Regions from separate parts of the Homo sapiens genome. Here regions 1, 2, 4 and 5 are each linked to region 3. The links come from fine-mapping of genetic effects on gene expression. A gene starts in region 3. Each other region holds a variant in brackets. All regions are shown on one strand. Distances are between the middles of the regions. Region 1 overlaps CAPN10 (calpain 10). Region 2 has its middle 24 kb from the start of GPR35. Region 3 holds the start of GPR35 (G protein-coupled receptor 35). Region 4 has its middle 16 kb from the start of CAPN10. Region 5 holds the start of LOC285191 (a long non-coding RNA gene).

What was found.
Region 1: its variant is fine-mapped to the expression of GPR35 in spleen (GTEx, PIP 0.99).
Region 2: its variant is fine-mapped to the expression of GPR35 in whole blood (INTERVAL, PIP above 0.99).
Region 4: its variant is fine-mapped to the expression of GPR35 in whole blood (TOPMed, PIP above 0.99). The same link has a PIP of 0.9 or more in T cells.
Region 5: its variant is fine-mapped to the expression of GPR35 in whole blood (GTEx, PIP 0.94).

Annotation. Positions count from the first base shown.
Region 1 is chr2:240,588,279-240,594,703 of GRCh38, reverse strand. It overlaps CAPN10 (calpain 10), which reads right to left. Exons shown (of 12, transcript NM_023083.4): 2 at 5,230-5,361; 3 at 3,693-3,889; 4 at 2,554-2,771; 5 at 657-798; 6 at 1-161. Among named protein-coding and RNA genes, the nearest start is that of CAPN10, 4.8 kb to the right of the region's middle. The variant C/TC (reference allele first, on the strand shown) is at 2,045.
Region 2 is chr2:240,646,361-240,652,861 of GRCh38, reverse strand. No RefSeq gene overlaps it. Among named protein-coding and RNA genes, the nearest start is that of GPR35, 24 kb to the right of the region's middle. The variant T/C (reference allele first, on the strand shown) is at 3,294.
Region 3 is chr2:240,623,186-240,628,294 of GRCh38, reverse strand. GPR35 (G protein-coupled receptor 35) reads right to left here and starts at 2,815. Exons shown (of 2, transcript NM_005301.5): 1 at 2,727-2,815. RefSeq lists enhancers at 2,355-2,861, 3,469-3,618.
Region 4 is chr2:240,599,742-240,606,242 of GRCh38, reverse strand. It overlaps a transcript of GPR35 not described here. Among named protein-coding and RNA genes, the nearest start is that of CAPN10, 16 kb to the right of the region's middle. The variant G/A (reference allele first, on the strand shown) is at 2,957.
Region 5 is chr2:240,685,162-240,691,564 of GRCh38, reverse strand. LOC285191 (a long non-coding RNA gene) reads right to left here and starts at 5,231. Exons shown (of 3, transcript NR_149021.1): 1 at 3,744-5,231; 2 at 3,053-3,149; 3 at 2,443-2,963. The variant G/C (reference allele first, on the strand shown) is at 3,104.

The DNA.
Region 1 (6,425 bases), 34 kb after region 3:
AGAGGCTCTGCAGGTGGCCGGCCTCCGTGACCGGGTAGCCAACGGTGAGCTCGTCAAACTCCCTGAGGAACTCCTCCTCCTCCACCCAGAACTCCCCTTCCTGGAGCTGGGACAGGAGCTCAGATGCTACCGCTGCATCTACCTGGCTCCACCCTTCACCCCTGGAAGAAACCTCATCTCAGCAGAAGCCCCTCCCGAGAACTGGTAGTGTCAACTTGCCGGCAGGCTGGGGGGAAGCCTGGAGGGGACCCAGAGAGCCCTGAGTTCCTGCCAGCAACCCCGTGCCCCAGCTCTGCAGCCCCTCCCACACCCGAAGCAGCTCTGCAGCACAGGGCCTTCTGGGCAGCGGCCACCCTGGAGCCCTCTCTTTTCCCAGAGGAACTTCACGCCTCTGGATGCGTCTTCCCAGGACTGCTGCCCGAGCCCGTGATGATGTCTGCCCTATTGAAACCCCAGGCCCAATGGCCACCTTGGTCCCAGGCCTCACAAGGATTGCCTGGAGCCAAGACAAGCATGGTGTCACGAGAGCAGGGACTCAGGGGCCTTGCTGGAGACAGCCAAGTACAGTCCTGACAGCTGAAGGTGACCAGGACACAGGCCAGACTGGCACTGGGCCCCCCTCCCGACAGCAGCATGGTCCAGGCCCCAGCACTCACCCCTCTCTCCAGAGCCCCTGCCAGCACCGCCGGCCCCAGGGGTTCTGGATCCGCAGCAGCAGGATGCACTGGCCCGCCTGACCCTGGAGCTCCCGCAGGTCCGAGACAATGAAGGCATGGAACTCCCCCAGCTCCCGGGCACCTGCATGAGGAATGGCGCAGGCACAGGCAGGAAGGGCACCATGGAGTCCCAAACTGACAAGGACACACAGGCCTCTGCCTCCTCCTCTGGAGATGCTCCAGCCCACCCCACTATGGCTACACGGGAGACCCCAGATCCCCATGGACCACGAGAGCTCCTTTCTTAGCAGCTGTGACCCATCAGCTCAGGAGCATCTCCAGGAGCAAGCACACGGGGCCTGACTCGGCTGCCATCCGGGTCTGGTGCTGGGTAAGTCATCCCCTTCTCTAGGCCTCAGTCATCGTCCGTACCCATCTGTGCACGATGCCTGGCACAGCACCAGTTCTCAAACATGCTGCACAGATGCATCTGCAACTGCCAGAAATCTAGAGAGTGTTTCTCTTGGCAAAGCCTGCTAGAGGTAGGACATTCAGATAGTGCCCTGGCTAGAAGCCCACTGGAGGCATGGAGGCCCAGGGGGGCAACAGCTCCACCTGGCCAGAGACCTTGAGACAGATGGGCATAGAAAAGAAAGAGCCAAACAGAGAGGAAGGCCACATCTGTGGCGGGGCAACGGTCTAGAGAGGAGGGTCTCCTGGAAGGACTTCAGTCTCGCCCACGCCGCGGCCCCTTGCCACCTCAGCAGGCTCCAATGCACCTCCAGTCAGTGCCAGCTGCCATCTCTCTCTGCCTGGGGGCTTCCTCTAAAGCCTGAAGTGCTAGGACTTAGCGCTACCCCACCCTGGAGCACCCAAAACCAACAGCTCCCCGAGCTAATGCCCACCAGACCAGCGCCCTCACTCCCAGGTGGGAGGCTCTGAGGCCAGCGTCCTTCCTGGCACCCCAGCGGGGCTGGCGGGGAGTACACGCCCTCCAGGCTCTCTGAACCTCTCAACGTGCTCCTGAACCTCATCTCAGGGTCTGCTTATGGGGGACCCAGACCAAGGCCTATGACAACTTGTTTCAGTTTACTGTGATATTCATATTCTTTAACCCATATTTTTAAAATAATCCTAAGTATGAAAAAAATGATAAAGATGTTCATTGATACTGCTTATAATTATATAAAACCAGAGAGATCTTAATATCCAACATCAGGGGAATGATTAAGAGACTGTGGCAAACCCGCTCATGGGGCGAACATTTGACAGCGCGTGTGTGGCAGTGTGAGAAGCGGTGCGGAAGGGAACACGTAAACCGTGCGTGCTCATGGAAAACTGAGAGCGCACTCAAAAGTCACATGTGGTTCCATCTAAGTGATTTTTTT[C/TC]CTTCATTTTTTGTAGAGATGAGATCTTGCCATGTTGCCCAGGCGGGTCTCTTGAACTCCTGGGCTCCAGCGATACTCCCACCTCAGCCTCCCAAAGTTCTGGGATTACAGGTGTGAGCCACCACACCTGGCCCCTTTCATTTTTTGGAGACAAACTGTTTTTAACGAATGTTATCTATCACTAAAATAAAAAACAGGTTTTGATTTTGCCAGGTTGCCAGCTGGGCCAGGGATGGCACAGACAGTGGGCTTTGACTCGGTGCCACCTCTTCCTGCCTCGCACTAGTGGAAAGGACTGGTCAGGGGAGAGAAGGGCCACGTCCCTCTGGAAGAGGACAGTAGGGGAAGGTCACAAACTGAGGACACCACCCTTGAGAACAAGCTTACTTCTTCCCACTTAGTCCTGACAGGGCTGTGTAGCCAGTCACATAAAAAGCTACAGTGTGCCTGAGGCCTGGCAGTGGGGGGCACGCTGGCTGCAGCCCTCCCATGCTGGCCACGTGCCTCACCTGCTCTGGGGCTGAGCACGCAGCAGCTGATCAGACACTGGTCCTTCAGGTGGAGCAGCTGCCGACAAGTCCTGTGCTCCCAGCGGCCTGGCCTGTCCTGCTGGCCTCCGCTTCCTGCTACGCCCTTCAGGTTCCATCTTTCTGCCAGGCCGCCGGTCAGGTCCACCAGGGCATCCGCCACCTGCCCGGCCCACAGGTGCTCGTAGGACCCATGGACCCTAGGGGACACAATCACCATGGGAGTGAGCCTCTGGCATTGAGCATGGCCCCCTCTCTGATTCCCATGGTCTGTAGCACCCCAAATCGTCCAACCGCTGCCTCAATCCCACCTCTTTACTCCCCTCTGCCTTCTTCCTCATCCTCACCAAGTCAAGGCTTAGCCTCACCTTCAAACGCCTTACTTCACAGCAAGCGTGAGCGCCCTGCAGTCCTCTGCCCACACACAGAAACTCTCTGGCATCCGGTGTGGGCACAGGAGCAGGGCAGGAGGCGTGGAAGCTATGGATGCCCACATCCCTTGGCTCTCAAGCTCCAACCCTGCTTTTCCTAAAACAGCCCTTGGGATGGAAGGGCTCACTGGGCACTGATGTCACCAGCCAGCCTTCCCATGTTCACCAGCTTCCCTGCCTGCCTGTCAGTCCAGTTGCCTTTGGCAAGAAGACAAATGCATTCTAAGAGGGAAGGCTATTCAATTATGACTCATGGTGAGGGTCCTGGTCCCCTGAGCCAGCAAGCACCGTGATACACAAGTGTTGGTATGCTGGGGTAGCCTCATTCCTCCCCAACGACTACACAATGAGTCTGCCTGTCCCAACCACTCCACAACAAATATAAAGAAGCATCTTTCTTGCTGGGGCCGATAAAATAAGGAGGACGGCACACATGTTCTCTGTGGAGAACGACTCCACGCTGGGCTTTGGAACAAGGGAAGGGAAAGCAGGGAGTGGGCAATCCACAGGCCCAAAAGAAGAATCTCTGCACCTGGCCTGTCAGCCTGACTCACAGAATGAGCTGCCAGACCCTCAGAACTGAAGGGGGCTCTGCAGCCCAGAGTGAGCAGAGACCCTCCTGGGGCAGCCCATGGTAGTGGCAGCTCCCACTTGCCCCAGGCCAGGCCCTTCAGCCCCCAGCACACGCACTTGGCGTAGACCTTTTCCAGTAAGGGGAGCCAGAACACATCCTCCCTCTGGCAGCGGGAGAAACAGAGTCTCCCTGCAAGGCACGGCAGGCGGTCATCTGTGGTCACCTCCACCCAGCGTCCAAACTGCCAAATGCGACAGGTGAAGGAGCCCCGGTACTCCTGGTCGGCCCAGCTCGGCTGTCCCGGAGGAATGACCTGCCATGCACAGGGAGAAGCAAAAGGCGAGCGTGATATAAGCACCACCCGGCGCTACTCCAGTGTCCCGGCCGCGGTGTGGCCACAGCTGAGTGCTCCACAGGCACCGCGGTCTGCAGAGAACTCTAACGCACACCTGGATGTCGCAGAGAACTCTACGGCACACCTGGATGTCGCAGAGAACTCTACGGCACACCTGGATGTCGCAGAGAACTCTACGGCACACCTGGATGTCGCAGAGAACTCTTCGGCACACCTGGATGTCGGCGCCTGCACAGGGCTGCATCACCCACATGAAATTAACAGACCTCTCATTGCAAAACTTGAGGACCACACCGAGGGAGCCACATATCCCGGGACACACTCTGCTGCCCTCACTAAAAGCATCTGACCTGAAGCCAAAACAAATGTGACATTCAAGGGCATGAGTGACCCAGTTCTTGACCGAGCTGGCTGCAAGCAACACGTCACCACAGGAACAGCAGCCCCTCCTGCTGCTGGGAGCCTGGCGCCCCGACACTGGGCCAGCTGCTTGCACCCACAGCGTCCACCGCAGGGCTCCTTCAGGGGTAAGCATTCTGACCCAGCATCGGGGGAGTGCAGGCTGGGCACCAGGCACCTGGTGCGGTCCTGGCTCTGCCACTTTACGGCCAGAAACACAATGGCAGTGATTTTAGCACTCTCGTTTAAAAAAAAAGTCAAAGCTGGTAAGACCATGTGTCTGAAAGCCAGTGACTGTGACACGCTTACCATGGGGCCTGGGACATGAGTGAAACTCTGAATGAGGTCACACTGTTGACGCCGCTGCATTAATCAGCAACACTTAGCAACAAGCCAAGCATAAAACGGTGAACACTCCCAGGTAAGGAAAACCTGAGAAGGCCTTCTCCTCCCAGAGTATCTGTCTACCCACAGAAACAGGTTTAATAACTTTTTGCAAACTTATATTCAAAACCTGTAAGAAAACCAGCGAGCTAGCTGAGGAGAGATCTGAGGCAGAGGCTGCCAGCCAGCCCCGTCCTCCTGTGAGCTGGCACATTTGTCTCTTTATTCTAAACGTGGTGATCTGACTCCATGGAGTCCGGGGGTCAGGAGAGCACAGAGCAGGGCGAACCTCCCTGATGGAGCCTTCTGGCGAGGCCAAGGCACCCCCCCCTGCAGCAGAGGGACAGAGTGCAGTCCTCAGCCTCTGCCTTGGAACTCTCCTGCCTTCCCCCAACACAGCAGGAGATCCGGCTGCGGCACAGCTCTGCTTTCGCAAGGCCTCCTGGTACTCAGCAGGCTGGAGAAACGCAAAAAGAAACCGGCTCCAGGACAAACACAGGGAAGGGGCCCCGCACCTGGTCCAGGAGGTGCCTGCTCTTCTGCAGCGCGGCGCAGGCACACAGGAACCAGCAATCCCCCAGCAGCCCCTGCTTCACCTGCCCTTCCCGTGGGTCATCTGGAAACAGCCGGGGTGTGGCACAAATCTCCTGAGATACAGAAAGTTGTCCAGAGTTAGATCATGCCTGCTGTGGAACCCTTCAAACTAAGAACCCAAGGCTCTAGATGACAGGAGTTGGGGTGGAGCTTTTCCGATCATCAGTGTTACCCAAAAAGGGACAGGAAGGTGGTTTCCTGCAGCGGGTGTCCTTCAGCTCCTGGCTTCAAATGCCTCTGTCCAGCTTAATTCTGGGGTGCCTTCCTTCCTTACTGGAAAAATCCCAAACTCTAGCAAGCTCCTTCTCAAAACAGCTAAATGTTGGCTTCGAAAAGTTTCACTTTTTACTCATGCTGGTAAATCTCAAATGTGTCCTCCATCCTGCTGGAAATCTGTTTCTCTAGCAGGCTCCATTTCCCACACCCCCTAACTATCATATACCTTCCCCTTTCTCCCCGTCTACTCAAAACATCCACACTGCCCTTGCCCACCCCTCTGAGCTTCGACCTTGCCTCCTGCTTCTGGACCTGACCCTCTCTCCTGCCCTCAGAGCCTGGGCTCCTCTCACAACTCCTTCCCTTCCAGCTCCCCGGGCAGAATCCCACCCCCATGTTCTTTAAGACATTATCTCTCAGCACCATAGTCTCCTTCAGGCTTCTCTTCATTACAGCTCTTGAAAGAGCTGCCATGCCCACTACCTGCTTCCCATTCACTCTCCACACAGGCTCCTCTAGCTTCTGAGCCAATCATGGCCCCTAAACTGCCTCGATCAATGTCGCTGTCACCTCTATGTTATCAAACCCACTGGGCTTCTCTTGGTCCCAACTCTCTTCCCCAACTACTCAGCAGCATTCACAACAGCAGAACAGCCATCTGCTGCCCCTGAGGTGGTCCCCACTCAGCTTCTGTGAGGCCGCATGCTCCCCGGGTGTCCTCTCCCTCACTGCCTGCTGCTTCTCAAGTCTATCTGTCAGGGCACCTGCCTGACCCCAAGAAATGTTAGGGTTCCTCAAGGCTCAGCCCCAAGGCCCCCTTCTTCTTTACTGATACTCCCCCGAGACACTCTCCCAGGCTGTGGACTGTAAACCATCTAATATGCTCCGCCTCCCAGAAGAA
Region 2 (6,501 bases), 24 kb before region 3:
CCTGACTTTCCTCATTCTTTTGCAAAGCAGTCTGAATTTCCCCACAATCTGTTGTTTCCACACAACTTTTTCCTTTGGCCCTGAGGCCAGCGACTATAGCTTGGACCTCCCAGAACCCAGGATTGGTGCAATGTCAGGATTCAGCCCAACATCTTCCTTACCTTTCCCTCTAACCTTCCCATCGGTCATGGCCCCAAGGCAACCACCTCGGCCTCACTACCCATTGGCTCAGGCTCAGAACCTCTCTCTTGCTTTCATTTCAGCTTTTACAGAAACAATAACTCACAGTGGACCCATATGAAGTGCCACTAGTGATGCTGGAAGTGCCCAAGAAGCAGAGAAAAGTCATGACATTACAAGAAAAAAGTTGAATTGTTGGATACGTACTGAGGTCTGCAGGTGCGGTTGTGCCATTTCAGAGAGACAATTCATCTTGTAAACAGATGACAGAAAACTTAATGATATTGATAAATACAGTACAGTACTGTAAATGTATTTTCCCCTCTTTATGATTTTCTTAATAATAGTTTATTTTCTCTAGCTTACTTTATTGGAAGAATACAATTTATAATACCTATAACATACCAAATAAGTGTTAATTATTTATGTTATCAGTAAGGCTTCGGGTCAACAGCGGGCTGTTAGTAGTTAATAGCCTACTGTTGTGTCTCCGTGGTAATAGCCTATCATTGTAATTGTCAGAAATGAGAGTGGTCTTGAGGACTGTTTTCTCTGCCTTTACAGTTTGATAAAATTCCTGCAGCTGAAAGTGGAATTCACTAGAATGTCCCTGACTCGCTAAAAAATGTGGTATGGAAAAAGGAGCAATGAGAGGGCAGGGGATGAAGGATCTCTCTTTTACTTTCACCCTCTCTTAACTTTTGTTTTAGCTTTTAGGGAACACAATAACCAAGAGATTGCATATGTAGCTTGGTTTTTGTTACTTTGTATTTCCTTATTCATCCGGCCAGCCAGTTCCTGGGGATCTGGATCCATCATTTCCAAATTCTGTTGGAAACTTTTACCTCCTGCAACTGACCACAGCAGGGCTGCAGCTCCATACCACACGTGACCCATGGCCATCCAGAAATCAGAGGTCCTTCATCCCCTGCCCTCTCATTGATCCTTTTCCCAAACCACACGTTTCAGTGAGTCAGGGTCATTCTAGTGAATTTCACTTCCAATTCCAACTCCAACTCCAAGAGCTTTAGCCAAATGTGACGACAGAGAAAACAGTCCTCAAGAGCACTCTCACTTCTGACACCAATTACAAGTTCCAGGAACCCCACACCACCCTCAGGTTCTGTAATTTGATAGAAAGACTCATAAAACTCACCGAAAGCTGTTATAGGTGTGGTTACAGTTTATCACAGAAGAAGGACACAGTTTCAAGTCAGCCAAGGAAGCTGCACACAGGGCAGAATCCAGGAGAACAAGAGGCTTCTGTTGTCCTCTCCCTGTGTGGTCAGGCCAGTTTTGCTCTCCTGGCATGTACGTGTGGTGACACACCTGCAGCACGGCCAGCTGGGGAGGCTCACTTGATGCTCTCTGCCCAGAGTTTTTACTGGGGCTCCAATATGTAGGCATGGTTGATTGATTGGTTGACTGACTGATTGCTCACATAGTTGACCTTAGACTCCAGCCCTCAGGAGGTTGAGATGTGTGACCAAAAGCCCCTACCCTAAATCACATTGTCGGTCTTTCTGGTGGTTAGCCCCCACCTAAATACTATCAAGTGTGGCCCGCCACCACCCTAAATCACCTTGTTAGACTATCTGGCATTATCCAAGGCAAACAAAGGTAAACAAAGACACTCCTATCAGTCATGACATTCTAAGGGCTTAGACATGACCTTCCAGAAGCCAAGGGAAGGGCTAGACATCTTTTTGGATAAGGTTAAATTCTTTACCGCACAACGTGTGAGATAAAAATTATGGAAGAAGGAGTTTAGGATTCCCAGAGCATCCTCATGTCCCTGATGCTGCATGGGGTGCATCTGCCAGAGGCCCCTCGCGGTGATGGAAGCCTGAGGAGCAGGAGCACCTGGCTGTGGCAGGTGAGGTCTGGGTTCCAGGGCCCAGGGTGGACCACACATCCCAGGCCCAGGAGCCAGAGCCTCACGTGGGCCCACCCCAGAGGCCAGGCACCAGAACTCAGGCTGTGGATCCTGTGTTCCCGGAACCACCTACAGTTTGGCTGCCTTGATCCAACCCTCCCACAGGAAAGGGTGCTGCTGACCCAGCTCCATCCTCTCCTCATCCCCTTGCCACATATTAGAGGGTCCTAAGGGTTCTGGGGTGCAGCTCCTAGGAAGAGGACTCTGTCCTTTTCCAGATTCCAGAAAGGGAGGAAGACACTGCTAGGAGTCTTCCCCTGTGAGGGTGCCCTGGCCCAGAATCTCCTCCACTGAAGAGCAGAGAAATGTGCCTACACCAAGAGCTGTCCACACAGCCTGACAGCAGAAGTGTCTCGCCTCCGAGTGACCCCACTTTCCGGTGAGCCCACTTCCAAAGACCCAGAACCACCGCAAGACGCTTTGCTCTCTACTAAAGCGATGCTGATTTTTTTCTCTGTTAGTTTTGTGGCTATTGAGTGATCATTCAGCGACTTAAGTGGAAATCTAACAGATTATAATTCTTCTATAATGTCCTGCAGGTTCCTCAAACATGACTCCCAGTGATTAAGGGCTTTCATGCCCTCCCACTAGTGGGAAGTGTAATTACATTATCTTGTTGTTGTTAATTAGTGTAATAAAGTTATCCAGAAACACAGCAAGAACTTTGTCTTCTAAAATAATTTCCATGTTTTTCTCTTTTATTTTTTTTTTTGTTATTATGAAATGGTTACACAATATCTCAAATGGAGACCTAATGTAATTTTTAGGGTAGTGTTTTATAAATGTACATTATGTAAATGTGAATCTTAGTAAACCATTTCCACATTATTTGATTTCCGAATACTGCAAGAAGCATATTTGTGTCATTGTTATTTAATAAGTCTCTTCATCCAGGAACCAGAGGTCCTTCATCCCCTGCCCTCTCATTGATCTTTTTCCCAAATCGCAAGTTTCAGTGAGTCAGAAACCCATTTTCCCTCTCTTGTGAGCTAATATTGGACCTCCTGTTGGAGCTAATATGTATCTTCCTCACATGGAGGAGAAGCAGCTGGGGGCCTCTTTCTCCTCCAGTTAATCTTCCTGGGATGTTCTGCTCGGAGGCCATCCTAATCTTAACACAACAGGGGCCTGGGGGCCCTAAGCAGAGTACGGGGGTCAAACCCGCCCCTCTTCAGCC[T/C]GTCCTGCCCTCTCCTTTGGTTCCACTGTGGTGGTGAGTTGATTACACAATTGGTCCTATTGAAGCTGGACGGAATTCTAGTTCTTGGGGTAGTGATTTCTACACGAAGCTCATTTGGAAGTGAATTTCCTGGGGGCACTGTTTCCTTTCCTTCTGTTCTGACAAGGGAAGGACATTATTTGGGTGTGGCCGCCTTTTAAGACCCTGCACCAGGGAAGTTCGGTGAGGGTTTTATAGGAGCCGTCTCACATCTGGGGAGATGCAGAAACACTGTTCTCTTCTATGGACCCAGAGATGAATATACAGTAGTTAGAAGACCAGTTATGTTCAACTCACTAAAACTTGATTTTTAGGAATGTTTGGGAAATACCGTTTCCACAAAACATCCTTCCCTCGTCCATCCATCGCGGGTGCTGGGGATTGCCTGTGGGAGACCTGGCCTCGGTGCTGCCTCCCTCCCTCCTTCAGTCCTGAATCCAGCTCTGGAGGAGAAGCAGCTGGGGCCGGGGAGGGGAGGTGACACCGTGCCCCGAAGGGTTAAAAAGACCGGTGACTGACAGCGGGGATTCCTGAGCTCACATGACGGCAGGTAAGAACAGCAGCAGCGTGCTGGAAATTCCCTCCTTGTGAGAATAAAACTGCCTGAGATCCTGGGGACCCAAAGGGCCGGCTGGAGTGGGCAGCAGCTTGCTGACATCACGGCCCAAATTTCCACCTCACGTTCATACTCACTGCCCCTGAATCAGCACATGTGACCCTGCAGAGGCACGAAGACACAGCTGCACATGCCCAGGGGACATTTCAGACCTCCCCTTTCCCTCCGGCAATCACCCGCTAATCCCAGAACCCACCCCAGACCTTTCCTAATGACGGCACTGCCTTAAGGCCAGGAAGGGGAGATGGATGTGAGCTGCATCCTGTCTCCTTGTTGCTGACCCACAGCAAAGCTTGTCTTTTCTTAAACCTGGTGCCACAGTACCGGCTTCTGAGTACCTCTGGAAGCCAGCCCCATTCACTGTCTTCCCCAGGCAAACCAGCTGCCCAGATTTGTTTCCCCAAAGTGCCTCTCCTCTCCCAGGCCGCTCACCCTATCATCTCTCAGGACCAGGGTGTCCCAGAGCATGCTTTAGGGGGTGCCTAGAGTTGGGACAGGCCACTGGACATCCAGCAGGGACCCTGAACTCAGTTGCGACCCCAAGGGCGTGGGGCCCGTTCTCCTCCAGTGAATCTCCCTGGGATGTTCTGCTGGGAGGCCCCCCTAACCTTAACACAACAGGTGCCCAGGGGCCCTGAGCAGAGTTCACAGGTCACACCTGCCCCTCTTCAGCCTGTCCTGCCCCAGGCAAAACAACAGTGACAAAGACTTTCCAGGATCCCTGACAACCCTCCCTGTTATGTGGCCTTCACCTCCCGCTTCCTATGTCTGGTCTTGGGTGTGGAAAGGACCTCAGAGGTTAAACTGTCACCCCCACCCCCTCTCTGGCCACCTCTGCCCCAAGCCACTGCCTGGCCACACCCGTGACAGCTGGAGCTGACAATTCTGCTTCCTTCAGGGCAGAGTGGGCACTGGCCTGGAGACTCCAGCGTGTGCAGGGGCACAGGCAGCCACGGCTCTCAAAGCTGCGTCAGTGGGGCTGCTGTGTGACTTGGACTCAGTCGCCAATGTCCACTTCCCTCCAGTCTTCAAGCGCTGTCAGAGCTTGTCACTAGCAGAGACGAAAGTCACATCACCTGTGGGGGCACAGGCCTGCTTCACAAGGACCCCAGATGGTCCTACAGGGATGCTTGCCTCTGAGGGGGCGGACACAGGGCTTTCACCGCCAGTAATTCAGAGCCCCTCTCTGCCTTCCAGTTCATCCCAACCCCCCTATTGCCCCATTCCAGGCCGACTTCCCCCCGAGATGCCAGAGCGCGTGTCCTGTTTGTTCCCGGCCCGGAGCTTCCTGCCCCTGCTGCGTTGCTGGCCTTGCCCAGGACCGTACGCGGAGCCTGCTGCCTGACGCTCAGCAGCTAATCCTTTCCACAACTCGAACGGCACTTAAATTGCCCTCCTATTTTCACCCCAGCCCTTAGAAAAGCTGGGCTTGGTCCTGTACGAACAAATTCCGCTACTGCGAAGCTTCCAGCTCCATCAACGAAGCCCAGCTCATGCAGAGGGGGTGTGACAGGAGGCCCCGCGCCGCCACCGGCAGCTGCTCTGCTCAGGGTACCAGCGGGCGGGGCATTGAGTGCGCCCAGGGCAGGGGCCCGAGCCTCCGCTCAGAGGACACTCGCTCGGGACCAGGGGCCGCTGGCTCCGAGAGGAACCACGCACCCCAAAGCCCCCCGTGCTCCTCATGGGCCACCTCTTCTGGGGGTGCTGCTTCTGCCCTGGAAGCCCAGCCACTCTCCCTCCTCCACTCCCTGGTCCGAGGTGTCAGGGACACGCGCAGGGCTCCGGCTGCCTCTTCCTGGAGCCAAGGGGGAGCCGGGGCTTTGGCCAAAGATTCTTCCCGCGCTTCCATGAACACTACAGCTCATGCAGGGCAGCCGGGAAGAGCCTCCAAGGCAGCCCCTCCTGGGTTGGGACACACAGAGCCGGGGTCTCAAACTACAACCAGATGGGCCACTGCCTATTTCTGTAAACAGGGTCACGGGAGCTCAGCCTGGCCTTTGTCCGTGTCATCCTCCGCTGTCTGCGGCTGCCTTCACCCTCCGCCGACAGCGTGGTCTCCTCGCTGAGGGGGCTGGAGACGTTCACCGACCGGCCCTTTACAGAAGAGGCTGCCGGCCGCCAACGCAGACCCCCGGCCTCGTGGCCCAGCAAGCACCAGGGCGGTTTTGTTTCTGGTGAGCGCCCACCCCGCGGGTGTCTGGTGAAAAGATTCCGTGTTGCATCCTGCTGCAAAGGAGCCAGCTGCACAGCTCCAGTCCAGCTATGGACAACCTTCTGCAGGAGACCTTGGGAAAAAGCAGAAGTTCGACAAAGGGCAGCTCTGACATCACTGGTGTGTGTTCTCTGTCTACTTGCAGCTGCCCTGGCAGAAGGGGGCACAACCAGAAGAAAAGAGCCTTCACTTGCCTGGACGCCCAGGACACCCAGCCCGAAGCCGGGCACGCCACCGTGCCGTCGTGTCTCCTGCTGGCTACAGACAACGTCACAGGAAGACAACGTCACAGGAAGACAACGTCACAGGAAGACAACGTCACAGGAAGACAACGTCACAGG
Region 3 (5,109 bases):
CAGGCCAGGCTCCGAGGACATCCCCAGAACCCACTGGAACCAATCGCTGGGATCTTCCCTTCCTGTTGGGCCTATACTCCTGTGGCAGCCCCCGCTGGGGGCCAGGAGATCCCAGAACCTGCTCAGAATCTACACCTCAGAGGCACCTGAGCTGGGCAGGCACTGTGCGTTGGGGAGGGCTCCGTGCGACTGGCCTCCTACTCTCCCCACCTGAGTACTTGAATCCACCAGAAGTCCAGGGCCAGCCTTGGGCGGTGTGCAGACCTGGAGGGGGAGGGGGTCTGCACAGCTAGAGGGCGATTCTTTTGCTGCCCCACCTTGAGTAGAGGCAGCCTGGGACCCTGCCTCGTGGGAGGTGAGGACCCGAGGGCTCGTGTGCCTAGACCCCTTCCCATTGCCCCAGCTTCCCCCATCGCTCCCCATGGCTGCCAAGGGGCTCTCAGGTCACACATACCCAGGGCTGCAACTTTCATACTAGCCTCGGTGTGGCCCAGTATTTTGTGGGGGAATGTTTAACTGCAGGCAGGCACGGTGGCTCATGCCTGTAATCCCAACACTTTGGGAGGCTGAGACAGGAGGATGACTTGAGGCCAGAAGTTTAAGAACAACCTGGGCATCACAGGGAGACCCCGTCTCTACAAAAAAAAAAAAAAAAAAAAAAAAAAAGACAGAAAATTAGCTGGGCTGGTGATGCGTGCTACTCGGGAGGCTGAGGCAGGAAGACGGCTTGAGCCCAGGAGGTTGAGGCTGAAGTGAGCTATGATCCCACCACTGCACTCCAGCCTTAGGAGACAGAGTGAAACCCCATCTCTAAGAAGAAGAAAAAAACTCTAACTACAACATTTAAATTTTCCTGTTTATAATAAAACAAACACTGAACTATTAGGGAGAAAAATGCAAATGTTGCAAGAGTTTCGAGGTGCACGTAGGCTTCGAAGAAGTGCCCTGTTCATGGGTCCTTGTCTCGCCCGTGGAGTGCCTCCCAGAAAAGTTCAGGAAATCAAGGCCCAGGCTTTAGCCCAGATGGCATGGGGCCCCTGGGAGCTAACATGGCCAGCACAGATGCCCACCTACTGCCCCAGTCCCGCACAGGAATCTGTGTCCAGGCCGTGGACCGTAGCTGGCCTCCCGCCTCAGCTCCTCAGGCCTGTCTTCCTCGACAGACACCAGCACCATCAGCCTCAGGGAGCTCCCGCTGCCGGGGACCGTGGGGATGGGGCCCTTCCACTTCCTGCCCAGGAGGCTTTGGGGATTGGAGCCAGCAGCACGCCTCTGAGGCCCCGCTTCCCCTTCTGATGACAAGGTCACCCTCGGCTTCTGCACACAAAAGCAGAAAAGTGCCCTTTGATTCTGCACTGAGTGATCCAGGAGAGAAACCTGGCCATAGACGGGCGATCCAGCCACACCAGAGCCCCTCCCCAGCCCTTCCCCCTGTCTGGACCCGGGACCCGCCCAGACCCCAGAGTGCCTGGCTGGCCTGGGATTGAGACCACAGGCCCCAACCACTGCTGAAGACGTGGGGGCACGCAGTGAGGTGCAGATCCCTGTGGCCCAGGCACCAGAGTCCCCCGTACCTGTGACCCCACTGGGCCTGGGCCCCACACAGCACACCACACCCCAGGACCCAGGATGGGGCTGTGAGTGACACGAGTTCACCAAAGTAGCTGCTCACCTCGGGGCCACAGCACGGGGTATTCTTCATTCTTGTTTTTAAATGTCACATCCCACACTCCAACAAGCTGCTACCCAGACACAGGCTCCAAGTCTTCATCAGCCTCAGCCACCCCTGAGACCCCAACAGCCTCAGCCCACCTGAGACCCCAACACAGCCTCACCTCACTGAGACTCCCCATCACAGCCTCACCCCACTCTGAGACCCCATCACAGCCTCACCCCACTCTGAGACCCCATCAGAGCCTCACCCCACTCTGAGACCCCGTCACAGCCTCACCCCACTCTGAGACCCCGTCACAGCCTCACCCCGCTCTGAGACCCCATCACAGCCTCACCCCGCTCTGAGACCCCCATCACAGCCTCACCCCACTCTGAGACCCCCATCACAGCCTCACCCCACTCTGAGACCCCGTCACAGCCTCACCCCGCTCTGAGACCCCATCACAGCCTCACCCCGCTCTGAGACCCCCATCACAGCCTCACCCCGCTCTGAGACCCCCATCACAGCCTCACCCCGCTCTGAGACCCCGTCACAGCCTCACCCCACTCTGAGACCCCCATCACAGCCTCACCCCACTCTGAGACCCCATCACAGCCTCACCCCACTCTGAGACCCCATCACAGCCTCACCCTGCTCTGAGAACCCATCACAGCCTCACCCTGCTCTGAGAACCCATCACAGCCTCACCCCACTCTGAGACCCCATCAGAGCCTCACCCCACTCTGAGACCCCCATCACAGCCTCACCCCACTCTGAGACACCCATCACAGCCTCACCCCACTCTGAGACACCCATCACAGCCTCACCCCACTCTGAGACCCCATCACAGCCTCACCCTGCTCTGAGACCCCCATCACAGCCTCACCCCGCTCTGAGACCCTGTCACAGCCTCACCTCGCTCTGAGAACCCCCGTCACAGCCTCACCCCACTCTGAGACCCCATCATAGCCTCACCCTGCTCTGAGACCCCATCACAGCCTCACCCCACTCTGAGACCCCCACCATGCCCCTGCCCCGCTGGGAGGCCCCTAGGGCAGTGGGCGGCACTGACCTGCAGGCAGCTTTGGCCTCCCGGGTGGAGTGTGTGACCCCCGCTGCCAAAGCCTGCACAGTGGCTGTCTGAGAAGGGCTGGGGGAAGTGAAGCTGGGGTGAGCCACCCCTCAGGGCTGGTCCCTGACTCTGCCCCTCCTTAAGGTGGGGGGGCGGGCGGCTGACTGACGGCAGCAGGTCAGGGGTAACAGGAGTTCCCCACTGCTCCTGCACCAGCCCCAGCTAGAGGGCGTGGGGGATTTCTGGGAGGGAAGTGGGGTGCCGGCTGCCTGTGCTGACACCTCTGAAGAGCCAGCATCCTTGCTGAGGGCACACATTTGTTCTGGAAACAGCGTGAGAGACAGACAGCAAAACCAGAGACGCTCCAGCCCCGCCCACGGAGCCTTCCTCCTCCCCAGCCCACTTCTGCCCTGTCATCTCGGAAACCTTCCCAGGGCCCAGCCCTCCCAGGGTCTGCGGTCAGCTCGCCCTCCCCAGCGCCTCATGCCCAGCCCCAAGACAGGGTGCAGCACGCACACTCATCCTGGTTCATGCAGACACGCTCCGTGGGCGCCTTCCAATACACACACACACGCTGGCACACATGCACACACACATGCACACGCCAATGCACACAGGTGAGAGGCACACGCAGGCAGGCTGGCTCCTCCCCTGCTTCCCCCCGACTTGGCCACCGGCCCCTCCTCCAAGCCCACCCCCTCAGAAGCCTACCCAGACCACCCCTATCTGGTCTAGAATATTCTCCCTGGCCCCCAACTCCTCAGCGGACATCTTCCTTCTGAGCTCATGGTGGGGGAGCCCGTAGGCCCAGGCTGCGCCCCCATGGTGCAGAGCACCCCCTTCCTGGGCCCTGTCCACCCTGAGGGCAGGAGCCTCGTCTCCTCAACGTGGGCCCCACAGCCCCTGACCACAGCCTCTCCCTCCTCAACGGCTGGGATAGGCTGGGGAGAGCTTCAGTTTCACCCCTCCCCACTTTACAGCGGTGGAAACGGACGCCCAGGGAAGGGAAGCGCTTGGCCCAGCGTCACACAGGTGGTGGCAGGTCTGAGACCAGTGCCTGGGCCTCCTGAGCCAGACCAGGGCTCTCTACCCAGAGGCACGTGAGGAAGCCCTGGCTGGGCATTGGTCCTTCTCTGCTGTCATCCCGGGCCTGGTTCCTGTCCCTTTCTTCCTGCTTCCTCCTGCTGTCCTTCCTGCCCTTCCTCCTGCTTCCCCGGCTGTCCCTCCAGGCCCAGTCCCCAGTGTGCGCCCTTGGGTTCCCTGCCCAGTCTCCATGGGCCATGATGTTCATTGGAGAGGGGCCTCATCCTCGGGCAGGAGGCTCAGATTTGGGATTTCATCCATCCCTCACTCTGGCCACAGGGTCTGGCCTCTGGGGTCAGCAGAAGGCACGGCACCTGATCAGTCCAAGCCCGGCCGCCGTCAAGCAGGGACTGGAGGTGCAGGGCACGGCATCTCCCAGGAGTGCTCCTTCCACCTCTGGCAGATCAGATGGTGCCCCAAGCAGGCCTACCCAGCCCACCAGAGCCAGGGCCCTGCAGAGCTCCCCCACCCCCCCCACCACCAGGCCAGCCATGAACTCCACCGTGCCCCCTCTGCTGGGCATCACTCCTCCCCAGCAGTGGCCTGGGGCACCCCGTCCCCACCAGGCCTGGCCTCCCTGACGTGGCCTGGCACCTGTGCTCCTCACACACTGGAAGGGAAGCCCCACTGGGCAGGGCCACATGGTCCCAGCGGATTCTTCTGGGCTGTGTGGACTTGGGGAAGAAACTGGACATTTAGAGACTCTGACTGTCTCTGGGAAGGGCCCCTTGCCACCAGGTTCCACCTGTGTACAGGAAACGCTGTCCCCAGCCCACCCCCTACCTCTCTCCATCTGCCCCTTGGCTGTCTCCGCAGGCACTTCAGGGCAGTCCCACCCAGCCTGGAGCCTGGGCCCTCGTGCTCTGCCCCCTCCCACTCAGGCAGGCCTTGCCCGGGCCCCTCCAGAGCGCTGTTTCTCTCCTAGCTCCCCGCTCACCCCCAGGGCCCCTCTCTCCCCAAAGCTGCACCCTCACGACCTGTTTGCACCCTCACGACCTGTTTGCGCCCTCACGACCTGTTTGCACCCTCACGACCTGTTTGCGCCCTCACGACCTGTTTGCGCCCTCACGATCTGTTTGCGCCCTCACGACCTGTTTGCGCCCTCACGACCTGTTTGCGCCCTCACGACCTGTTTGCGCCCTCACGACCTGTTTGCGCCCTCACGACCTGTTTGCGCCCTCATGACCTGTTTCCAGCCCTTCACCCTGTTTGATTTTATCACAGAACTTATTTTTTAAGTAACCCTTTCTGCGCACTGGGCTTGTGCTTGTGGGACTCTATCTGCTTCCTGCCCTGTCGG
Region 4 (6,501 bases), 23 kb after region 3:
CTTGACCTGGGTAAGGGACACTGCATATGCCCGACTAAACCTACTAAACCTGGTGCCATGTTCCCTGGGATCCCTGAGTGAGTGTTGTGGTCCCAGCCCAGATCTGAGGCAGTGCTGTCTATGTGGACACTGGCTATACCTGCTGGGGACTAGAGAGGAATGGCCGGGTTTGGGGGGCAGCACTAACCAGATGGCCTGCAAGCTATGGCCAGAGCCCTGCAGCCATGGTCTGAGCTCCCCAGGATGCTACAGAGAGCCGAGAGCTCCGGAGACTCCCAGGTCAGCCTGCCTGCCAAAGCCTTTCCTCCAAAGCAGAAAAGACCCTTCCCCTGATGAAGCAGCCATGTGCAGGGCTTCACGTTGGGATCAAAAGGCCCCAAATTATCCCCAGGAATAAAATGATTCTTCCACTAGTTTCAAAAGGCAGCAAAACTAGCTTAAGTCTGGCAAAAATTAGGTGAAAACAAACAAACAAAAAAAGCAAAACCAAATGAAGACTCCAAGGGACAGCGAGCAAGGCGCAACCATGAAGAAAGCACGAGCCCAAAGTCCAGGTCTGAACACCTTGGCCCCAGCCTGGCCGGCCGCATCCTGTGTCCTGCCCGGGCAGCCCTGCCCCGACCAGCCCTCTCCCTGACTACCGCTCTCAGGACACAGGATCTCGACACTCACCCCAGAAGCTCTGCTGCCCCCAAGGCTGGCCCAAGCCTGGAGGACTGTGAAAGAGAAGACGGCAGTATCAGGACCGGGTGGGACACGGCTCCCACCAAGGAGTCACCAACTGCTGTGCCTGGAGCTGGAAGTGACTAAAGGAAGGAACCCAGGCAGGTGGTGTGGGACAAAGTCCACAGGAAAGGCCAGGAAGGAGGTGCTCTCATGGGACACACCCAGTCCTGCCCGTCCGGATCTGCCAGGGCCACCCTTTGTCCCTTCCCACCATGGTGGGGAGACGGTCTTCAGCCCACATGCCCCACTCTGCAGGCCCACAGTACCGCCAGGGACCCCACAGCCCTGGACCCCATGGAAAGGCCAGGCCCTGCCTTCAAGCATTCCGGAGAGTTCTGGGTGCCTTGCCAGGGCTGGCGTTGGGGAGACAGGATTTTATTTTTCAGGGTGGCTCTCATTTGCTAGGACACAGGCCACTGGGGACCCAGCATTTGTGTAAGAGATGGGCCCTTCTATAGATGACACATTTATGTCCCCGAAATTCACATACTGAAGTCCTCATCCCCAAGGTGAGGAATGAAAAGGTGGGGACCTCTGGTAGGTGATGAGGTCATGAAGGCAGAGGCGTCACGAATGGGATGAGTGCCCACATAAAACGGGCCCCAGGGAGTTCCTTTGCCCTTCCACCACATCAGGACACAGAGAGAAGGTGCTGTCTCTGGACCAGGAAGCAGGTCCTCACCAGGCACCAGGTCTTCCAGTGCCTCAATCTTGGACTTGCAGCCTCCAGAACAAAGAGCAACGCATTTCCACTGTTTACGAGCTGCCCAGGCTATGGTGCTTTGTTACAGCAGCCCAAAGGAACTCAAAGAGGGGCCCCACCAAGGAACTCAGGCAGGTGCAATGCCAGAAGAGCCAGTAAATCTTACAGGGGTGAGGAAACTCTTTGGCTTTCTCTATTTTCACGTAAACCAGCAGCCTTGCGGCAAAACGAGTGGTCAATAGGAGACTGAGTGACTGCTTGGCAGACAGCCAAGAGAGGCCGGAGAGGGCAGGAAGTGCTGGACAGTGGCTCCCAGCTCCAGAGCACCCCTAGAGGCCCCTGGGTGACACAGGCAGGGGAGCCTCACGGAGATCCAGGAGCAGGCATGCTGGAGGTGGTGCTGATTACAAGCTTGCTGATGGTCAGGCAGCGCTATCAGCTCTGAGGCTGAGAGGGGACTGAGGGTTTCTAGATGGCCTTCACCCTCAAGCAGAGCTGTGCGAGGAGCCGATCCAGGCTGGCTGCAGCCGCTGCAGAGTCCACCCCAGCAGACGCTGAGAGAGAAATGTCACTGGGTGGCCTGTGGCCACTGGCCCAGAAAGCAGGAAAAGTCCCACAGTGCCTCACCCCTGCTTGCCTTCCTTCCCTCCTGACACCCCAGGTGTCTCCCCCAAGCCGCCAGGCCAAGGGCGCTTCTCCCCGCAGGTGTTCCCAGGGTTATGGTCTACACAGCCACTGCTGAGAGGGTGCAGCCAGCAAGGAGTAAATACGCTGGCCAGCAGGTGTGAGCCGGGGCGGTAGCCCCAAGGGAAGGCCCATGGCTGGGCTGTGGGCAGCGTTCTTGGGGGCAGCCTTGTCCAGGGATGCCATGGGGTAGTCTGCCTGGGGAGGCTGAGCCAGGCAGGGCACAAAGACCAGGCGTTTCAGCCAGGTGGGGGCACCCCGGCCACCGACACTCCAGGCTTCTCCCTCACCAACCCCACCTCTTCCACCTTCCCTCCGAAATACCTTGCACCCAAATTCTATGTCTGCCTCTGCTTCTGGAGAATCCAACCCCCATTGGAGAAGAGAGTCACTAATTTGGGATTTGGAACTGGGTCACTCACGGCCCACGGGCAATGAGGACCCATCACTGGTCAGGGGAGATAGCTGGCGCCTGGCACAAGGTGGTCGTCCTGTCCAGTCCAGTTGTGAAACTGGTTCCAGTGTCCAGTGGGAAAGTTGGGGAAGGGGGTCTGCTGGGGGCCCCAGCTGCTGTTTGATGAATGAACAGACACGAGGGCCTCCAAGGAGGAAGCAAATAAGGCGCAGGTGGCTGAGGCCTCACTGAGGTGCCCTGGCTGGAGTTTGGAGAAGTTGGGCGGGGCGCAGCACTCCCAGCTCCTGATCAACACCTAGCCAAGGCCAAGGCCCCATCTGGAGAAACCAGGACCGTGGGCAGGGAGGAGGCAGTGCGTGGTGCCTGAAGGTTCCACTCTCCAGCCTCTTAGGAAGCTTCTGAGCCTGCACAGACGCGGCCCACCCCTC[G/A]CTCCACCCCCGTCAGGCCCTGGCCCCCCTTGGGTGCTAGGGCTCTGACCGAGTGAAGTGTCAGCAACATCCAGTGACCAGGGAGTGGGCTGCGGGCCCGGCCAGCTCGGGGCACAGGAGGGGGCTGCAGGCCCAGCCAGCTGGGGACGGGAGGCGGGAGCACTGGTAGGACTGGGTGCTGAGGCGCCTGATAGGGAAGCTGGAGACCTAACAGCAGTGTCCCGAGACACAGGTTTGACACCCTGGCAAGGCCCCTGGAGGTGGAGCAAACCTGGAGGTTCCTAGCGGCACAGGCAACACTTCCACTTTTGCTGGGCAGGGTAGAGATGCCACAACTGCTGTGGCTGGTGGAGGGTAGGCGTAGGCGTGTGTGGTGTGAGCTGCCAAGCACTGGTTCCCTGGGAAGACCAAGGTCACACCGCTCACCTGTGCCATGCTGGTTAATAGGGAGTGGCAGCTGTGCCGCAGGAGGCTGGCAGGAGTGGCGGCGGTGCCCCAGGAGCCTGGCGGGAGTGGCGGCGGTGCCCCAGGAGCCTGGAGGGAGTGGGCGGCGGTGCCCCAGGAGCCTGGCGGGAGTGGCCGGCGGTGCCCCAGGAGCCTGGCGGGAGTGGTGGCGGTGCCCCAGGAGCCTGGCGGGAGTGGCAGCGGTGCCACAGGAAGCTGGTGGCAGGAACCACCATCACTGGGTTTGGCTCGCCGGGGGCGGAGGGCATTAGACCTCTAAACAGCAGAGGCCAGGAGACAATCATGAACACGGCTGAAGGGCGCCAAGGGGCCTGCCTGCAGGGCTTACGGAATGGCAGCAGAGCAAGGCAGGGCTGCCAGCGAGGGCAGCGCTCAGGTGGAGCCGGCAGAGGGGTCCAGGAGGGCTGAGGGTGGTCACTCCGATAGAGCCCCAGTTGGGCCCACACTGCCCGAGTCGGTTTTCAGCCCAGGTATCTGCTGACTGAAGAGGTGGCCAGGCCTGCAAGATGAAGGACACTCCCCACATCAGCAAGTGTGCATGACAAGGACCTCCCCGGGGACTATGTGCACCAGGAAGAGAATATCCAGGCATCTGGGAGCCACTGAGCACACAGGCCCCAAGCTGATGCTGGTCCCCAAGAGTCACCAGGGCTCCATGACAGTGGGACACATCACAGGCAGTTAATAATGGAGTCCTGCCCAGGACCAGCTCACATGAGCCCACAGGGCCTACAGACCCACCCGGGGCCATGTCCCGGTCTCTGAGCCTGTGACTGGGATTGACACCTGGGGAGCGACCGATATCTCTGCTGCATCCTTGGGGTAGAGATGGCCGTGGGAAGGCCAAGAGGGACACTGGAAGGCCAAGACTGTCCCCTCCTGCCCGGGTCCCAGAGCAGCCGTGGCATGCGGAGAGAGGGTGGTGGCCCTGCTCTCTCCATTTGGTTCAGTGTGGCCCCGTGGGATGGGATTCCTGGAGGGCCACGTGGCGAGTGCACACACAGCCGAGGGGCAGCCCAGTGCAGCAGGTCCTGGAGGTCCAGGTACCCAGGGTTGGCCATCAACTGGACGAATACGCCACGGAAGATCAGAAGCTGCTCACATTTATATGAAATTTGTATGGAATGGACAAAGGCATTTGCTGTTTCTCCTGGGGCCTCTGCCGGAATACAGGACAGAGACCCCAGCTGGCCGGACACCCTGAAGAGCACCGCACTGATCCATGACCTTGGCAACAGGATGCTGATGGTGTCAGAGCAGGAGGCAGCCAGGGACAAACAACACCAGGCCGGGGCCTTCTGCACCAGAAATGTTTAGGTTGGCTGGGGGTTAGAGCCCTGCCAGACATCCCCTCCAACTGCATCTGGAACCTCCCATCAGAAGGAAGCACAAGGCCTCAGGGCTCTCCGCAGGCTTCGGAGGGAGCGTTTTCCACACCCAGGAACATGGTTCCAGCTGGTAGACCAAATGGCCAAAGCAGCCAGGTCGAGTGGAGCCAATCTACACTGGGGCGATGATGGGTGCCAACCATGGCCTCTAAAGTCACGGAACCCTGCGCTTTCGAGGCCTCCTCTCAGGCAGTAGCCTGGGACGCGGGAAGCAGGTCCTGGCTGTGGCCTTTGGGCAGAGCTGCCCAGCAGGAGGGTGTGGCCGCCACCTTCAGGGCCTGCCTCGGGGACAGTGGCTCCTGAGGGCCTGGGGGAAGGGATGCTCAACATAAGGGCCTGGCCAGCCCAGGTGGGGCCCTGCAGGCAGGGTTTGCTCCAGAACTCTTCACGGGGTCCCCACCAGTCTATCCTGACATGGACACAGTCCCTGCAACTGTCTTCCCTTCATAGGCACTGTGCCTGAGAAATACCTTGACCCCAACTGTCCCACCTCAACCTGCACCATCAGGCGCCCTGCACAGGACCTGTCCGCCCACAAACCCAGGGATCTAGGGCAGCTCCGACCCAGCTCAAGCCTCTGGCTTGGGCACTGCCCTGCGGGGTATTTCTTTGGTGAGCCGCCCCTCACTGTTCGCCCTGAGTTGCTGTACCCCAATAGGCGGCACCACTGGCTTCATCCGAAGTCAGCACAGAAGCCAGTGGATGAGGGAGATCTGTGGCAGGCTCTGCACGCAGGGAGATGGAGCCCCATCCTGCTGCTCAAGAATCCGTGTCTGAAGATGCCGAGAACCCAGCTGCCACAGCCACTGCTGCTGGAGGGCCATTGAACCAGCAAGCAGAGGGGCTCACGGGGCAGGCTCCAGGGCCAGGGCAGCTTCCTGTGGGTGAGTCAGGAGGGTGGCTTGGCGTGGCCAGGGCGTGGAGAGGGGGACAGCGGCACAGGTCCCAGTGGGAACAGACACCAGGACTCCAGAGATGGTCGTGATCCGGCAGCAAGGCCCAAATCAGGCTCACTGGGTGCTATGGTTTGAATTTGTGTTCCTGCCCAAATCTCATGTCGAATTATAATCCCCAGTGTTGGAGGAGCCTGGTGGGAGATGATTGGATCATGGGAGCGGATATCCCCCTTGCTGTTTTGGTGATAGTGAGTTCTCCTAAGATCTGGTCATTTAAAAGTGCACAGCACCTCCCCTTCGCTCTCTTCCTCCTTCTCCAGACACCTGCAGACTGCCTGCTTTCCCTCCGCCATGATTCTAAGTTTCCTGAGGCCTCCCCAGCCATGCTTCCTGTACAGTCTTCGGAACTGAGGCAATCAAACCTCTTTTCTTTATAAATTACCAGTCTCAGAGTTGTTTACAGCAATGTGAAAAAGGACCAATACACGGGGTCTCCCCAGGCACAAAGGGACTCAGGAAGCGAATGGAATTTAAAAGGGATTAGAGCTGGGGTTGGCGGTCATGCCTGCAATCTTAGTGCTTTGGGAGACCAAGGCAGGAGGATCACTGAGGCCAGCCTAGGCAACCACATACTAAGACCCCTAAGCATTCAAAACTTGAAAAAACTAACCAGGCATGGAGTGTGCGCCTGTTTTCCTACCCACCTGGGAGGCTGAAGAGGGAGGATCACCTGAGCCCAGAAGGTCGAGGCTGCAGTGAGCTATGATCATGCCACTGCACTCCAGCCTGAGCAACA
Region 5 (6,403 bases), 63 kb before region 3:
ATACCTGCTCCCTGCACCTGGCCCCTCTTGAGTCAGGGTCTCCCAGATCCTGCACCCCCTCCAGGTCCCTGCCTGAACAAGGGCCCCCATTTCCGCCTCCCTGCATGGATGCTGTGTCCCCATCTCAGTGAGGGCCCCAGGCTTATTGCACCTGCACTGTGTCCCCACTGGGGTGAGACCCCCACTGAACCTGCACTGTGTGTCCGCCTGGGAGGCCCCTCATGGCCCCTGCACCTGTTCTTTGACCCAGCCTAGGTGAAGCTCCCTCCTGCCTGCACCTGTAGATGTCTTCCCTTGAGTGAGTGCCCTCTGCTCCCTGCACCTGGCTGTGTCCCCAGCTAGGCCAGGCCCCCTGCACGTGGGCTGTGTCCCTGCCTATGGGAAGGTCCTCTCATTCTTGGCTCCCTGCACCTCCACTGTGTCCCCACCTCAGCAGGGACCCCCAAGCTTGTTGACCTGCCTGGGGTCTGGTCTGGGTGAGACCCTCCTCCACCTGCTCTGTGTCCCCTCTGGTCAAGAGTTGGCAGCAGCCCTTGCCCCAGCCCCACATTCCCTGCCCTGTACTGCCCTCACCTGCCCTCAGGAGAACTCAGGACCACGCCTCACATCAACGTCCCTCCCACCTTCCCGCCCCGAAAGCGCTTTCCAGAGATGAAAACCGAAAGTGCCATCGCCATTCACTTGAATTTCCTGCAGAGGGGCCAGCTACCCACAGCTGCGTGGAGAAGGCGCTGAGCCTGGGCGTCTGCAGTGGGAGATAGCTGGGCTGGGACCATCCAGAGCTCCGGACCCCGAGGGGATGGGACATGAGCCCTGTGGGCCCTGCGATGGGCCGTCTGTCACCCTGCAGCATGGATCCTGTCCAGTGAGTCTGCACCCAAGCACTGGGACACCAGCCATGGCCATATGGTACAGCATGTGGGACTTTCTGGATGTCCCGCCCGCAGCCCTTTCCTTCTCCCCCAGGACTCACTCCAGCACCCGAGGCCCTTCCCCCAACCTGGCCCAAAGCTCCCCTTTCTCTGAGACTTAAATTTCCTTTTGTTTTTGGAAACCCAGTTGGGTCCCACCTGGCGTCCCCCTGGCACAGCTGGGGAGACTGAGACCAGGAGGGAATGGACCTGCCTGAGGGCACATAGGAGGCAGCAGCTCGCAAAACAAGGGGCGATTTTATTTCAGCTTTGAACTTTCCAGGTCTGGGGTTCAGAATTTCCTCCAGTTAGGGAAGGTGTCTGGTCGCCTCCAAGGAGGGGAGGCCCCAGGCTCTTCGACTCCCACAGGAAGGCCGCCTGTCCCCCTCCCCAACCCATCCACTGACCTCTTCCCAGGAGGCAGAGAAACCCTGGTTCCAGTAGGGCTGTGGCTGCCTTCGGCTGCCTGTTCCCTGTGCAAGTGCCCTGCCCTCTCAGAGGAGCAGAGGAACCTTCTGGAACCTGTAGAGGCCTGGCATCTGCACAGGGAAAAGCCAGGCTTTCCCTCGTGGGATCCTGTGGAGAATGAGCTCAGACGGATTCCTCATATTCTAATCCGACACCACTGGAGACCTTGACTCCTCCTTCCAGAGCGGGAACCCCCTTGTCCAGCGTCGCGGATACCGGGCCCCACAGTCTCCCTGCATCTGCATTGACCCTCCACGGAGCTCACAGCAGGGAGGGTCTGCGTGGTCCACCTCTACCCCACGCACAGGCAAACCTGAGAAGGAACGTTTAATCACCATTCACAGCCCTTGCTTCTTTCTAGAGAAATAAAACAAACTTACACCAGAATATGAAAACAACGTGAAACACACAAAAGTTAAGTGTGAGCCCGTGCACTGTGACAGGTGTCAGCAGCGTGAGTCTCGCCAGCGTCAGGAGCTGGAACGTCTTCATCATCCCCGAGTCCTCTGGTCCTCCCTGCCCTTCCGCAGCGGGAGGGTCCACTCTTGTGGGTTCCCAGTCCTCCCTGAACTTCCCCAGAGGGAGGGTCCACTCTTGTGGGTTCCTGGTCCTCCCTGAACTTCCCCAGCAGGAGGGTCCACTCTCGTGGGTTCCCGGTCCTCCCCGCCCTTCCCCAGCGGGAGGGTCCACTCTTGTGGGTTATGTGATTCTAGCTTCCCGCTTTCTGTCCGGAGCCTGCAGAGGAATGGGACCACGAGCTACACGTGGGTTGGACCTGCCTGTTTTGAGAGAGGGCCCTGTCCCTGGGGTTCATGTCCCTTGAACATGGTTGAGAATTTTGTTCCTTTTCATTGCTGACTTGAAGCCATGTCATGAAGAGCCACAGCTTGGCCGTTTTTCTGATGATGCCCATGTGGGTGGATTTTAGTTCTTACTACTATGAATAAAGCTGCTGTTAGCATTTTGGTCTATTCTTTCTGTAAACGCAGACTTTTATGTCTTTTGGGTAAATTCCTAAAATGCCCCGGGTGAGCTATGTCCACTGAACAAATCCCACATCTATAAATTTGGAAAGAAGACTTTATTTCCTATAAAGGGGTAGGGCCTTCAGGGTGGCCGTCCTGACACCCTGGGCACCTCAGCCTCTGGCAGAGCCCAGGCCGGGCACCTGGAAGGAGGGGGTTGGGGCAGGAGCTTCATGCTGAGCAGGTCGGCTAAGCATTCCCAGCCTTGCCTGGGCCTGGTCCTCTGGGGCGATGGGGAAGAATGGTGTTCCAGGACGGGGTGGGGGGCACCTGCCCAAGGCCTTCTGCAGGTGACCTGCTGGGCCTGGCCTTGAAGGAACCCCAAGTACACTCACCTGTACCCCTCACAGCCACCTCAAAATGGGCCCGCGATGTCTCAGCTCAGGACTTCCTGGGAGGCGACCTCACCCAAGGCTCCCCAAGGTTCCAGTCCTCAATGTCAGGGAGGGGCAGAAGAGACCAGCGGCTTCTCATCCAGGCCCCACAGTGCTGTGCTGAGCCCCATATGCCCCCCGCTCAGGCGGGTCCAGCACTCCCTGTGGCTCTCGGGGGAGACGAGCTGAAATGGAGTGGGGTCCTTGCTCAGCTCACAGCACCCTCTCCTCAGCCTCACCCCATTGGAAGGTGGCCCCTGAACCCTCTGCCTACCTGTCCTGTGCACTCCTCTGGGTTAGCTCTGAGAAGGCTGGGAAGGCCCTC[G/C]ACCCACCTTGAGCCAGGTGTGGGAACAGAGTGGTCAGTCTGCGCCCTGGAACAAAGATCAAAGCCAGGGTGAGGCTGGTCCAGAGACGTCCCCAGGCCCTTCCAGGGTCAGCTTCCTTCACCCACAGGCTCCTGGTTCCCCTGGAGGGACCAAGCAAAGCCAACATAGCAGGGAGCCTGCACTCTGCCAAGCCTAGGGGTGCCCTGGCTTCTCCCCTTGCCTGTGTGTGTGGGTGTCTGAGGATCCCAGGGTGGAGATGGGGAGGGACGCGGTGTGGGAGGCCCAGTATTGGGCAGCACCGTTGGAGGGGACTGAGCTCGTCGGGGGGTGACCAGCCCTCAAGGCTTTGGCTGGCTGAGGGGTGAAGGGCCTGTGCCTTGTGCTCCAAGCCTTTCCCGCCTGGACAAAGAGACCCCTGGGCCCGCAACAGCTTCCACAGGAGCCTGGCCCTGCCCCTCCTCGGGTGGCCTGTGGCCACAGGGACCCTTCTCCCACCCTTTTCCCAGGCTCCCTGTGTCCTCACAGCCAGCCCCCACATCTGCAGAGCCCTTCTCTGAAATGCCAGACAGGAAGACACACCACTGAACCTGGAAGCCCCAGCTGGCAGAAAGGGGGTTGGGCACCTCAGGCAGGCCTCACCTGCATGCCCACGCCATGCTGCCCACGGCAGGGCCAGGCCACTCCAGGCCCCTCTGTCCTGCAGGCGAAAAGCCAGGAGTGGAGCTGCACCAGGGTTGGGTCCTGAGCAAGGTGAGGCCCCAGCCCCATCCCCACTCCCCCCAGGGCAGGCCTAGGGTGCGGTCCTGAGGGCGCCTGGGGCTGGCCTGCCCGTGTGCACCCCCCACCCACAGAAAGGGCTGGAAAGAAGTCCCACCTGTAGACGGAGGCCAGAGGAGGGGACAGCCTTGTCCTTGCTCCCCACCCTGCCTGTCTGCACGGGAGCCCACGGTGGGGCCCAGGAGGCACCTCCCTCAGGCCGGCTGTCCCTCCCCACCTGGGGCCCATCAGCTGGGGGTACTGCCAGGTGCTGGAACAGGGCCTGGGGCCTGCTACAACCAAACCTCTAGGCCCCCATATGTGAGTCAGGGTTCTCCAGAGAAACAGAGCTGCTGGGCGATACGTTTAGGAGGAGATTTATTACAGGAATCGGCTCCTTGATCACGGAGGCTGAGAAGTCCCACAAACCGCTGTCCCTAAGCCAGTGAACCCGAACAGCGGGTGGCGTCATTCAGTCCAAGCCCAAACCGCTGGTGTCAGTCCCAGAGCGCAAGGCCTGGGACCCAGAAACTCCTGTGTCTGCGGGCAGGAGGAGATGGACGCCCCAGCCCAAGAAGACAGAGGAACCTCCGGAGTCTGGGTCTGCAATGGGCTGGGTGCTACCCACCCTCATAGCTGAGGCCAGATCTGCCTTCCTCAGCTCACTGACAAATTACCATCTCTTGTGTGACCTGAGAGTGCACAAACACTTCCTGGCAGGGAGGAAAAAGCAGTGACAAGCACATTTAAAAATAATCAATTTGGCTTTATCCGAAGGAAAATGCTCTAGTTATCAAAAGACACTACAAAGAAAATGACCAGGAAGTCTGGGGAGATACTGCAAAACAAATCCCACACAAAAATCTTGTATCCAGAATATAGAAAGAATGATCATAAATCAATAAAAAGATACACAGCCCCACTTTAAAAATGAACAGAAGAGATTGGAATGGACAGACAGTTCATGACTGATGGTTTCACACTTTTTGTCATGAGGGAAATGCAAGTTTAAGCCACGAACAGATAGAACCACACAATCAGCAGAAGAGGTAGTTGTGAAATCTTGACACCACCGACTTTTAAAGACACCAAAACTGTCACACACGACTGGTGAGAGTTAAGATACTACAGCCACTTCGGGAAAGGTTTGGATAGTCCCTTATAACGTTTTCACTCACCTGCCATGTGAGAACTAAAAATGAAATCCTGAGCTCCCGCACCAACAAGCTGAATGGACCCTTCTTGGCCAAGGGGATTCCAGAGAAATCTGAAAAACATGACAAAAATCCCGCCATGACAGAGTGGGAGGTGGGACCCGCCGCGTGACAGCCCCTCCGTCTGTGGTTGGGACACCACACTCACCAGCATGAAGGTGAACATAAAGAGGAGACTGACAAAACAGGTTCCTTGTGGTGATAAGACAGCAAATGATCAACAAGACCTGAGGCCCTGCCTGGCAGGGGTGGAGTCACGCACAAGACACTGAAAAGCAGAAACCAGGGGCTGCCGGCCAGGAGGGTTCTTTTTCTCTAGCAGCTAAACCAGCGCTGGCCACTAGGAAAGCCACACTCACTCAGGTGCAGCTCACCCCCTCCAGATGCTGACACACAGCCCCACTCTTCTGTGCCACCAGCCCTAAGTTTGATTGGCCAAGAGGCTGATTTCTGTAATTCTGACTGGGGACCACCCAGCAGGGACTGGTTCTGGCTGGTTTTCAGGGGCCGTGCAACGAGTGCCTTGGTGTTGCTGCTTCACCTTTCCAGGCAAGGGCCTCACAGGAACACATTTAGATATCACGTGTCCACCCCCAAGGAAACTTGAGACGCATGTCACATGCATGTTTGTTCAGTATGCATGAGTGAGGACCCCTTCCTGAATGTTCACGGCTCCTCCAGCAACCCATGGAGTGTGTGTCCTTAGCCGACCTGTTCAGCATGAAGCTCCTGCCCCAACCCCCTCCTTCCAGGTGCCCGGCCTGGGCTCTGCCAGAGGCTGAGGTGCCCAGGGTGTCAGGACGGCCACCCTGAAGGCCCTACCCCTTTATAGGAAATAAAGTCTTCTTTCCAAATTTATAGATGTGGGATTTGTTCAGTGGACATAGCTCACCCGGGGCATTTTAGGAATTTACCCAAAAGACATAAAAGTCTGCGTTTACAGAAAGAATAGACCAAAATGCTAACAGCAGCTTTATTCATAGTAGTAAGAACTAAAATCCACCCACATGGGCATCATCAGAAAAACGGCCAAGCTGTGGCTCTTCATGACATGGCTTCAAGTCAGCAATGAAAAGGAACAAAACTCTCAACCATGTTCAAGGGATATGAACCCTCAGGGACAGGGCCCTCTCTCAAAACAGGCAGGTCCAACCCACGTGTAGCTCGTGGTCCCATTCCTCTGCAGGCTCCGGACAGAAAGCGGGAAGCTAGAATCACATAACCCACAAGAGTGGACCCTCCCGCTGGGGAAGGGCGGGGAGGACCGGGAACCCACGAGAGTGGACCCTCCTGCTGGGGAAGTTCAGGGAGGACCAGGAACCCACAAGA